Regions from separate parts of the Homo sapiens genome. Here region 2 is linked to region 1. The links come from fine-mapping of genetic effects on gene expression. A gene starts in region 1. The other region holds a variant in brackets. All regions are shown on one strand. Distances are from middle to middle. Region 1 holds the start of ARHGDIG (Rho GDP dissociation inhibitor gamma). Region 2 overlaps FAM234A (family with sequence similarity 234 member A).

The links. PIP is the estimated chance that this variant, and not a neighbour inherited with it, causes the effect.
Region 2: its variant is fine-mapped to the expression of ARHGDIG in skeletal muscle (GTEx, PIP 0.98).

The regions. Positions count from the first base shown.
Region 1 is chr16:278,021-283,383 of GRCh38, reverse strand. It overlaps ARHGDIG (Rho GDP dissociation inhibitor gamma), which reads right to left and starts at 2,793. Exons shown (of 6, transcript NM_001176.4): 1 at 2,631-2,793; 2 at 1,459-1,638; 3 at 1,276-1,359; 4 at 1,011-1,087; 5 at 854-917; 6 at 374-769. The coding sequence starts at 2,703. The coding sequence ends at 570. It overlaps PDIA2 (protein disulfide isomerase family A member 2), which reads right to left and starts at 220. Exons shown (of 11, transcript NM_006849.4): 1 at 16-220. The coding sequence starts at 214. RefSeq lists an enhancer at 1,895-2,652.
Region 2 is chr16:240,105-245,467 of GRCh38, reverse strand. The region is part of intron 1 of FAM234A (family with sequence similarity 234 member A); the gene reads right to left. Among named protein-coding and RNA genes, the nearest start is that of FAM234A, 8.0 kb to the right of the region's middle. The variant A/G (reference allele first, on the strand shown) is at 2,695.

The DNA of each region.
Region 1 (5,363 bases):
GGCCCCAGCACTCACAGAATTCCACCAGCAGGGCAGGGTGCTCCCGCAGGGCCAGGCCCAGGGTGTGGCGGCTCAGCACCAAGATCCCATCCTCCTTGGGGATTTCCTCCTCTGGAGGCTCCTCCGAGGGGCTCCTCGCTCCCTGTTCCTGACCCCATGGGCACGAAGCCCTGAGCAGCAGCAGCAGCAGTACAGGCAGAAGCTGGCGGCTCATGGTGCTGCCAGGGCGCGTGGGGCGGGGGCAGATAAGGGGGCCAGAAGCCAAGCAGCAGCTGCCACGTGGCACACAGGCCCAGTCCCAGCAAAGACAAGGCCCATGCGGCCGCCCCCGGCCCCCAGGGGAGGGGAGGCAGAAAGAGACGACACCCAGGGCACCGAGAGAGACAGGGCCATGTTTAATGGGACAGCTCAGGGGACAGCGCCAGGCCAGGGGGTCCCGGGACAGAGCAGGGGCAGCAGGGGCAGCAGGGGCAGCAGGGGAGGGTCTGGTCACTCACGGGGGGTGCTGGGGATGCTTGGGGGTCCCTGTGCAACAACTGAGGGAGGTAGGGGAGACACGGACTGGGGGTTCAGTCCTTCCAGTCCTGGCAGATGCAGAGACCCCACTCCCAGGACAGGTGGTGCGTCCTGTCATCGTCGGTGAAGAGGGACACCACCAGATAGGGGCCCCGCACCAGCGCACCCCTCGGCGCTTCCTCCACCGGAGTCACAAACTCATACTCCTGGGCGCTCGGGCCATAGCTGCCCACCATGTAGACGGTCTTGTCCACTAGGGAGGGCGAGGGCATCAGAGCTGTCCTCTGTCTGCCCCCGCTTCCCCCCCCCGCCCCGTTCCCCCCACCGCTGCCCTCACCGCGCAGGCCCCGGCGGTAGGTGTGGTGCAGACACTTGAGGCCGCTGACAATCTCCCTGTGGACCTGGGAACAGAGGCATTAGGGGTTCCTCTGGGGGCCAGGCCTCTGGCTGTTGCCCCCACCCCCATCCCCTCCGCCCATTGCCCCGGCTCTCACCTTGAAGGAGATCTTCACTCTGTAATCAACACCTTCCTTCAGGACAAACACCTGGTCCTTCAGAACAGCCAGGTCCCCTATTGGGGAAACCTCAGCTAGGGTCGGAACTCCCCTACAGGCTGAGACCTGCTCCAGGAGCCCCCACGTAGGGTGTGGTACCCATGAGGTGTGCGACTGTGATGGCCCAGGGCTCGGAACTCAGGGGTGCAGAAGCGTGCCTGGGAGGGCCCTACCTGTGTTCAGGGTGCAGCATCCTGCGAGTTACCTGTGAGATCCATGACGACGGGCCCCGGAGCCTGTTCCGACAGGAGTGTCAGCCTGGTCACCTGCACATTGGGCAGGCTTGGGTCTGAGGAGAAACTGGAAGTCTGCAGGATGCCCCCCACCCCCACCAGGCTCCTCACCAGCCCCCCAGACCCAGCCCTCCAAGCCTAGACCCCTGCCATACCCACGGCCGGTGGCAGGGGCCCCAGCAGCACCCGCTTGTACTTGGCCAGGCTCCTGTCGTCCGGGTCCAGCTGCCGGATCTCCAAGAGGCTCTTCCTCCCCGGCGCCCGGTACTCGGGCACAGCCTCATCCAACACCTCGTCCACTGCCGGCGGCCCACCCTCCTTGTCAGCCAGGAGGACTGGGGGTGGGGAGGGGCGTGAGCAGCAGCCACTAGCGGACCCTGGCATTCGAGCACCAGGCTGGAGCCCCCTCTGGCCAGCTGTACCTCCCACTATCCAAAGGGACTCAAGGGAAGCCTCTGGGGGCTCAGGGAGAGAGCGAGCAGAGAGAGCAGGGCGGCCTGGGGAGGTGCCGCACCGCACCCAGACCTTCAGGAGGGGCCTCCAGAGACCGCCAGGCCTGCAGCTCCTCTGGCCCAGATGTCCACAAGGGCCCCCTCCCTGACTCGGAGACCAAAGGGCGGGGGAGCGAAGACTTCAGATGAGGGCAGCCCAGGGTCAGGGGCTACCTGCTAGAGAGCAGCGGCCCTCGGCGGCCCCCAAACCTACTGACCCTCTAGGGCCCTCGGCGGCCCCCAAACCTACTGACCCTCTAGGGCCCTCGGCGGCCCCCCAAGCCTACTGACCCTCTAGGGCCCTCCACCACCCTGCTCTGGACTGGGGTCTCTGAACACTTTCCCACAGTCTAGGAGTTCCTCCCCATGGTGCTCGGGTGCCGGGGGCGGCTGTCTCCAAATCCCTGGGCTCAGGCTCTGCGCCGCCTCCCATGGCGCCCCGGGCTGGTGGCCTCCTGAAGCCCCTCTCCCTGGTGCCCTGGGCAGGGGTTTCTGAGTCCCTGCCCACTTCGCTCCCGTCTTCTCGGGGATCACCACACGCCCTACAGAGCCTGAGCCCCAGCCCCAGCCCCACCCAAGACAGAGGGGCTCCAGGCGGCGGTGTCCAGGGGGAGAGGGTCCCAGCGCCGCCGCTTCCCAAGCCGACCCGTCCGCACCTGGTCCCTTCCCCACAGGGCTGGAGCCTGGATGAAGTCCCCCACCCCTGCCAGACCCCAGCCGGGGGGTCGGCGCCGCGAGGTCCCCATGCGCGCCCCCAAAGTTGCCGCGGGGGAGGGGCTACTCCCCGCCCGGGGCTGAGACCAGCCGAGCCCCCCGCCCCTGCCCGGCCCGCTCACCTCGGGCGCACAGCGCCAGCCGGAGCAGCTCCAGCAGCTGCGCCCCCAGCTCGCACGCGTCCAGGCCCAGCATGGCGGCGCGCGGCCCGGGCGCCGCGGAGCCGCCGAGGAGCCGCCGCCCGCCCCGCCGCCGCCCCGCTCGGCGCTCAGCCCCGGCGCGACTGCGGTGAGCTCATCCCGGCCGGGAGCGCCCCCCGCGCCCAGCCGCGCCCGGCAGAGAGCCCCCAGCCGCTCCGGACCCCGCGCAGCCCCGCAGAGACGCGCGTGTCGCCCGCACGGGCCGGCACCCGGGTCGCCCCCGCCGGCGTGCCAGGACCCCGCACAGAAGCGCCCGGACGCGGACGCACGCAGCCGCGGTCACGATCCCCGCCGCCCGCCCGGCCCGTGCCCGGCTCTGGCCAGCAGGGCTGCCCCACCCCCACGGCGCGGCGGGAGCCCGAGGGGGTCTCCTGGGAAACCCTCTGCGGGGCGCCGTGGCGCAGGTGCGCCCCCATCCCCAGGGTCTCATTATCCGCGGCCACACCTGGGGCCGGACCGCGCGCCCCCTTCCCCTCCCCCGCTCCTGAGGGAGCTTCTGTCTGGGCCGAGGGGGACTCCGGGGGCCTGCCCAGCCTTGGGGTGAGGGGCTGGCCCAACACCCTACAGGTTCACGGTCATCAGTAGGGCGGGACCACAGTGGGCGCGGGTCGCACGCACACCCAGGAGGCAACAAGGGCCCCTCAAAGGCTTAGCGACCTGGCTGCGCTGTGTGAGTTCCCAAGAGGGGGTGTCCCTGCAGGGCTCTTGGAAACCCAGTTACCGAGCCCCCTGTCCTCAGGGAGAGGACACTGACAAGGGGGCGGAGTACAGAGACCGGAGCACAGAGGGGGCTTCTGATATTGACACCTAAACTGAGACCTGTGGGTGGGTGGGGGGGATGGGACCCGGCAGGGGACAGGGGTGAGCAGGCCCTGGCTGGGACAGCTGGACCAAAGGCCTGCGTCTGGATAAGGGAGAAGGGGTCCGAACACCAGCCTGAGTCCCTTTCTTAGACACCCCTGGCCGGTTCCAGGGACACCAGAAATTAGACCCGCCCTTGCCAAAGAGCTCCTCAATTGAGAGAAGACCACCTTGGGTGCTAGGGGGCATTGGGGTTTGGGTGGGGACTGTCTCCCTTGCCCCCCAACTGCCCACAACCTTTCCAGGGCAGGATCCTATGAACTTGTGCCCAGGCCCCCCTAGAGCGCCACCTCTGCTGACCCTTCGCTGCAGGGAGCGGGGGCTGTTAGGACACTTGTCCCCAGGCCCACAGCTCCAGCTCCTGCAGCTGTTACCAGATAGAAGGTCTTGGAGGTGAGTTGTCCAGGTTCTTGGTGGGTTGAACAAAGAATTGAACAAAACGCACAAAGTAACAAAAGAACAACGAAACACAAGGAAACAAAACTGAGTCAGAAGAACGGAGTAAGGAAAGCACAGATTTAACGGAAGGCAATTCACAGAGTGGGAGTGGGCTGGAGCAAGTAGCTCCAGAGCCTCTGTAATTAGGATTTTTATTAAGCAAAGAAACCTGACCACAGCCCTTGTGCCCTTTAGAGGCCTCCAATTGGCTACACCCTATGAAGGATTGGCCCGAGACCAATCAGAGGTGAAGTGGAAATTTCTGTCTTGTTATCACAGCAGCCAGGATGTGGCTTGTGAGCTGCCCAATCCTGCCTAGAACTGGCTGCACCTGCTGTTCCGTTTCTTATGCCCAACCCTTGGCTACCCTCATTCCCTATTCTGCCTCACAGCTACCATGGGTGCCCACCCCTGCAGACAGGGCAGCCAGACCTGGGCCACCTCACCCCACCTGGGTGTGGGGCATGGGAGGGCTCACTGGGATCCAAGCGAGATGGTACCCTGGAGTAAGAGACCCCACAAGCCCCCTGCCCCAGCTCATGCTGAACGTGGCCTCTCCGGCAATGGAAATGGACTCAGACCACTATGTTAGGGGCTCCCAGCCCAAGGCCAACCGCCCACCCTGCCCAGCCCCTAGCACCCTCTGAGTGGGTAAGGATGGGGAGAGGTACTCTGCCTCCAAGAAAGCAGAAATAGACCAGATGCGGTGGTACACATCTGTAGTCCCAGCTACTCAGGACGCTGGGGTGGGAGAATCACTTGAGCTCAGGAGTTTGAGGCTGCAATGAGTTTATGATTGCACCACTGCACTCCAGCCTGGGTGACAGAATGAGACTGCCATCTCTCAAAAAATAAATACATAGCCAGGTGCCATGGCTCATGCCTGTAATCCCAACATTTGGGAGGCTGAGGCAGGAGGATCACTTGAGGCCAGGAGTTCAAGATCAGCCAGCCTAGGCAACACAGCAAGAAACTGAGGCCCTTACAGACAGGGATAAGCGAGGGGCTACGTGTATATTTATCTACAAAAATAAAAATGAAATTAAAAAAAAAATTAGTGGCCAGGTGCGGTGGCTCATGCCTGTAATCCCAGCACTTTGGGAGGCCAAGGCAGGTGGATCACTTGAGGTCAGGAAGTTTGATACCAGCCTGGCCAACACGGTGAAACCCCATCTCTACTAAAAATGCAAAAAAAAAAACAAAAAAAAAAATTAGCCGGGCATGGTGGCGCATGCCTCTGATCCCACCTACTTGGGAGCTGAGGCAAGAGAATCGCTTGAACCCAGGAGGCGGAGGTTGCAGTGACCCGAGATTGCACCATTGCACTCCAGCCTAGGCAACAAGAGTGAAACTCCA
Region 2 (5,363 bases), 38 kb after region 1:
GCAGTTCACTGAAGAGCACACGCCAGTGGCCGGTGCCCAGGGGAAACACACTCAGTCTCACTCATAGACACAGCAGGACCAATGACATTAACAAAAGTTAAGCATTTCATTTTATCTGATCTTGAGACAGGGTCTCACTCTGTGGCCCAGGCTGGAGGGCAGTGGTGATCTAGGCTCACTGCAACCTCCTCCTGCTGGGTTCGAGAGATTCTCCCACCTCAGCCTATAAAGTAGCTGGGACCACAGGTGTGCATCACCGCGCCGGGCAAATTTTTGTATTTTTTGTAGAGACAGAGTTTCGCCACGTTGCCCAGGCTGGTCTCAAACTCCAGGGCCCAAGTGATCTGCCTGCCTCAGCCTCCCAAAGTGTGGGCCACGCCCAGCCTAAAAGTTAAGCATTTTAAAATGTGTTGGTGAGAATATACGATAACAGGTCTGCAGTACAATAGTCGTGGGAATTTGAAATGGTAGTTATTGGTCGAGCGCGATGGCTCATGCCTGTAATCCCAGCACGTTGGGAGGCTGAGGCGGGCAGATCACCTGAGGTCGGGAGTTTGAGACCAGCCTGACCAACATGGAGAAACCCCATCTCTACTAAAAATACAAAAAAAAATTAGCCGGGCGTGGTGGTGCATGCCTGTAATCCCAGCTACTCGGGAGGCTGAGGCAGGAGAATCACTTGAACCTGGGAGGCAGAGGGTGCAGTGGCCAAGATCGTGCCATTCCACTCCAGCCTGGGCAACAAAAGCAAAATTCCGTCTCAAAAAAAAAAAAAAAAAAAAAAAGAGGTTACCATTCAGGGAAGCAGACTTCAGGGTCCAGCCCTGTGCTATTTTTACAACATTTTGTGAATCTATAAGTAGTCCAAAATAAAAAGTATAAAATAGAAAATCAAAAGAGAAAAGAAAACCGTTAGTAAGGGGGAGTGGGGTCAGAGGTTCATGTAAGTTTTAGAGGAAGAACCAGCTTCTCCACAGGCAGCTTGGTTTGTGCCTCAAAGCTACCTTAATATGAAGCTATTTTGTTCCAAAGGCAGGAGTCCTTTTAGTGTTTTGTTTATTTTTGGAAGAATATCAATAGTGGAGTTTTGTGGTAGCCTGAAGAAATACTGAAAGAAGAGCCAAACCCCTGGCATGTTACAATTCTCCATTACAAAATAATCACCAGCTTCCTCAAAACCATCCATTAAAATCATTTTCCGACCGGGCGCGGTGGCTCACGCCTGTAATCCCAGCACTTTGGGAGGCCAAGGCGGGTGGATCACAAGGTCAGGAGATCGAGACCATCCTAGCTAACACGGTGAAACCCCATCTCTACTAAAGATAGAAAAAATTAGCCGGGCGTGGTGGCGGGTGCCTGTAGTCCCAGCTACTCAGGAGGCTGAGGCAGGAGAATGGTGTGAACCTGGGAGGCGGAGGTTGCAGTGAGCCGAGATGGCACCACTGCACTCCAGCCTGGGTGACAGAGCAAGACTCCGACTCAAAAAAAAAAAAAATCATTTTCCTTTCCACTGTGGGGAAAAAACGGATATGCACAGCATTTATAACAATACTCCCCAAATACTTACCTGAGCAAATGCCAGAGTTTAAAAGGGGTCGTCTCCAAAGTCAGACAATGTGGTGACAATGAAAATGCCCCAAGGGGTGGGAACTCTTACTGCTATACAGCCTCTGCACATGCTTTCACACCGGCCTGGCCACAGAAAAGGGGTGTGTGTTTAACACGAATAAGGCCTGTCTTTGGAAAATTAAAAAGCTGGTCAGGAATTCCTTCACAGGATCTCCAGGTAAGACTTCCTTTTTGGAAACTTGACTGAGCCACCAGAAATAGGGGTAGTTATTAAAAGCCACAACGGCAAGGCAGCCAAAGCCAGGCAGTTCATGATTCAACCAGTTTGCAAATAAAGACACCATGAGACAGGTCCAAAGATTTGCTCATCAACAGCAAGAAGATACCAATGTTTTTCTCTACTGCGGTCATTAAAAATACCAGGAGCCGTAGCCAGAGCTTCAGGAACCTGACTGGCAGAGAAAATCCCCATGGACCCAGGTCAGAGAGACTTGAGCAGGGCACTGTCCTTGCTCTACTTTAGCATCCATACCATTGACCACAGAGAGTCAGGCCATGTGGCTATTTAAAAAAACAGAAAACAGAACTCAACAAGCTAATAACCAAAAATTTAACTTCATGGCCGGGCAGGGTGGTTCACGCCTATAATCCTAGTGCTTTGGGAGGCTGAGGCAGGAGGATGACTTGAGGCCAGGTGTTCGAGACCAGTCTGGGCAACATGGGGAGACCCCATCTCTACAAAAAGTAAAATAAAATTAGGTGTAGTGGCATGTGCTTGTAGTCCCAGCTACCTGGGAGGCTGAGGTGGGAGGTTAGCTTGAGCCCAAGAGGTTGAGGCTGCAGTGAGCTGTGATCATTATCACTACATTCCAGTTTGGGCAACAGAGTGAGACCTTGTTTCAAAAAAAAAAAAAAAAGTGAGGGCTCAGAAAGAAAAGAAAATTTGTCAATACAATACGTATTAATTAAGGTAAAAGACCTGACACGGGATGGGCGTGGTAGCTCACGCCTGTAATCCCAGCACTTTGGGAGGCTGAGGTGGGTGGATCGCAAGGTCAGGAGTTCGAGACCAATTTGGCCAACATGGTGAAACTCCATCTCTACTAAAAATACAAAAAATTAACC[A/G]GGCGTGGTGATGTGCATCAGTAATCCCAGCTACTCAGGAGGCTGAGGCAGGAGAATCGCTTGAACCCGGGGGGCAGAGGTTGCAGTGAGCTGAGATAGCGCCATTGCACTCCAGCCTGGACGACAGAGCGAGACTCTGTCTCAGAAAAAAAAAAAAAAAAGGAGCTGACACCAAGAATAACTTGAAGAAAGAAAGATAAACACAATACCTCATATATGGTTATTCAAACGGATTATTCCCCTGGCCTACAGAACTATCAGTAAGCCCGCGGTGACTCGTGCCTATAAACCCAGCATTTTGGGAGGCCGAGGTGGACAGATCACTGGAGGACAGGAGTTCAAGACCAGGCTGGCCAACATGGTGAAACCCCGACTCTACTAAAAATACAAAATTAGGTGGGTATGTTGGTGTCTGCCTATAGTCTCAGCTACTGGGAAGGCTGAAGCACGAGAATCACTTCAGCCTGGGAGGTAGGGGATGTGGTGAGCCAAGATCGTACTACTGCACTCCAGCCCGGGTGATAGACCAAGACTCTGTCTCAAAAAAAAGGACTATCGGTAAACCAGCTGTCCACTCTAGGCCACTGAGGCTGCCACACCTATCTGTCCTCCAGGGAGTCCACAGGCTACCCAGTCCTGAGTGGAAACTCTGATTAGGGGGAAGAACAAAACAATCCAGCAGTAGTTTGCACAGCTCATTAACATTTCGGCAGGGGTGGGGCAGGAATACCACAGTCCATGCAGAAAGGAAGTGACAGGTCTCTCCCTTTTCTCCAAGAGTTCTTTCTCTAAGAAGTTTACTGAGTCACAGAGAACAGAAAATAAAAACAAAAGTCTCATTCTAATTGCCTTTTTTTTTTTTTTTTTTGAGACGTTGTCTCGCTCTGTCGCCCAGGCTGGAGTGCAGTGGTGCAATCTTGGCTCACTGCAACCTCCGCCTCCTGGTTTCAAGCCTCAGCCTCCCCAGTAGCTGGGACTACAGGTGCCCGCCACCAAGCCCGGCTAATTTTTTGTATTTTTAGTAGAGATGGGGTTTCACTGTGTTAGCCAGGATGGTCTCGATCTGCTGACCTCGTGATCCGCCCGCCTCGGCCTCCCAAAGTGCTGGGATTACAGGCCTGAGCCACCGCGCCCGGCCTCTAATTTTTTTAATTGCAGAAATTTGATGAAAACTTTTTTTTTTTTGACACAGGGTCTTGCTCTGTTGCCCAGGCTGGAATGAAGTGGTGCAATCATGGCTCACTGCAGCCTTGAATCCCCGGGCTCAAGAGATCCTCCCGCCTCAGGCTCCCCAGTAGCTGGGAGCACAGGCATGCACCAGCTAATTTTTGTTCAGCTAATCTTTAAATTTTTTGTAGAAATGAGAGCCTCACTATGTTGCCCAGGCTCCTCTGTAACTCCTGGGTTCATGTGATCCTCCCACCTCTGCCTCCCGAAGTGCTAGAATGACAGGTGTGAACCACCGTGCCCAGCCTGAAGCAGACAGCTTTTTTTTTTTCTTTCTTTTTGTGTAGACCTCCTCTGCGGTCAAGATAAGTGTTTTAAGGCTAGGCACAGTAGCATACATTTGTAATCCCAGCAACTTCGGGAGGCTACAGCAGGAGGCAGGAAGATCACTCGAGCGCAGGAGTTCGAGACCAGCCTGGGCAACATGACAAAACCCTACCTCCACAAAAAAATACAAAAACTAGCCGGGTATGGTGGTATGTGCCTCTAGTCCCAGCTGTGCGAGAGACTGAGGTTCCCTTGAGCCTGGGAGGTGAGCGGAGATCACACCACTGCATTCCAGTCTAGGCAACAGGGCAAGACCCTGTCTCAAAAAAAAGAGAAGAAAACAGTGTTTTAAATGGATAAAATATTTAGTTAATATTTAGAGGAAAACTATGATTATAGATTAATGTTACTATCTAGTTTCACCAGTTAGAAACAGAAACTGAAAAGATTTTGTCAATGGATTAAAAATAATAAGCCCAGCTGGGTGTGGTAGCTCACAACTGTAATCTCAGCACTTTAGGAGGCCTAGGCGGCTGGATCACTTGAGGTCAGGAGTGCGAGACCAACCTGGCCAACATTGTGAAACCCCATCTCTACTAAAAGTACAAAAATTAGCCGGCGTGGTGGCACGCGCCTGTAGTCCCAGCTACTAGGGAGGCTGAGGCAGGAGTATCGCTTTAACCAAGGAGGCAGAGGTTGCAGTGAGCTGAGATCGCACCATTGTACTCCAGCCTTGGCAACAAGAGCAAGACTCTGTCTCAAAAAAAAAAAAAAAAATACACCCAGATGCAGCGGCTCAAGCCTTAAATAAGTTTGGGGTGACCCCCACTGACCCTGGTTAACCACACTCCACCCCAGAGAACTCAGTATTTTTCTTTCAAAGCACTCATCATACTTCTCTTACCTGGCAGAAAGAAAGCTATTTAAGGCCAGGAAGATGTCTGCTGTGTCCCCTGAGCCAAATGGATGAAAGAGAACTTAAAAGACAAGTAAGATAACTCACAATCAAGATCTGAATTTTCCGACAGACTTCATCATCCATAATCACTAACCAATCTTGTAGCGAGTGTGCCCAAATGCTTGTCCCCAAATCCAGCTGCTATACACACAAATGACTTAAGAAATGTATTTACACAATGTGGCTGTGTCACCACCAAGAACACGCTGGGCATTTG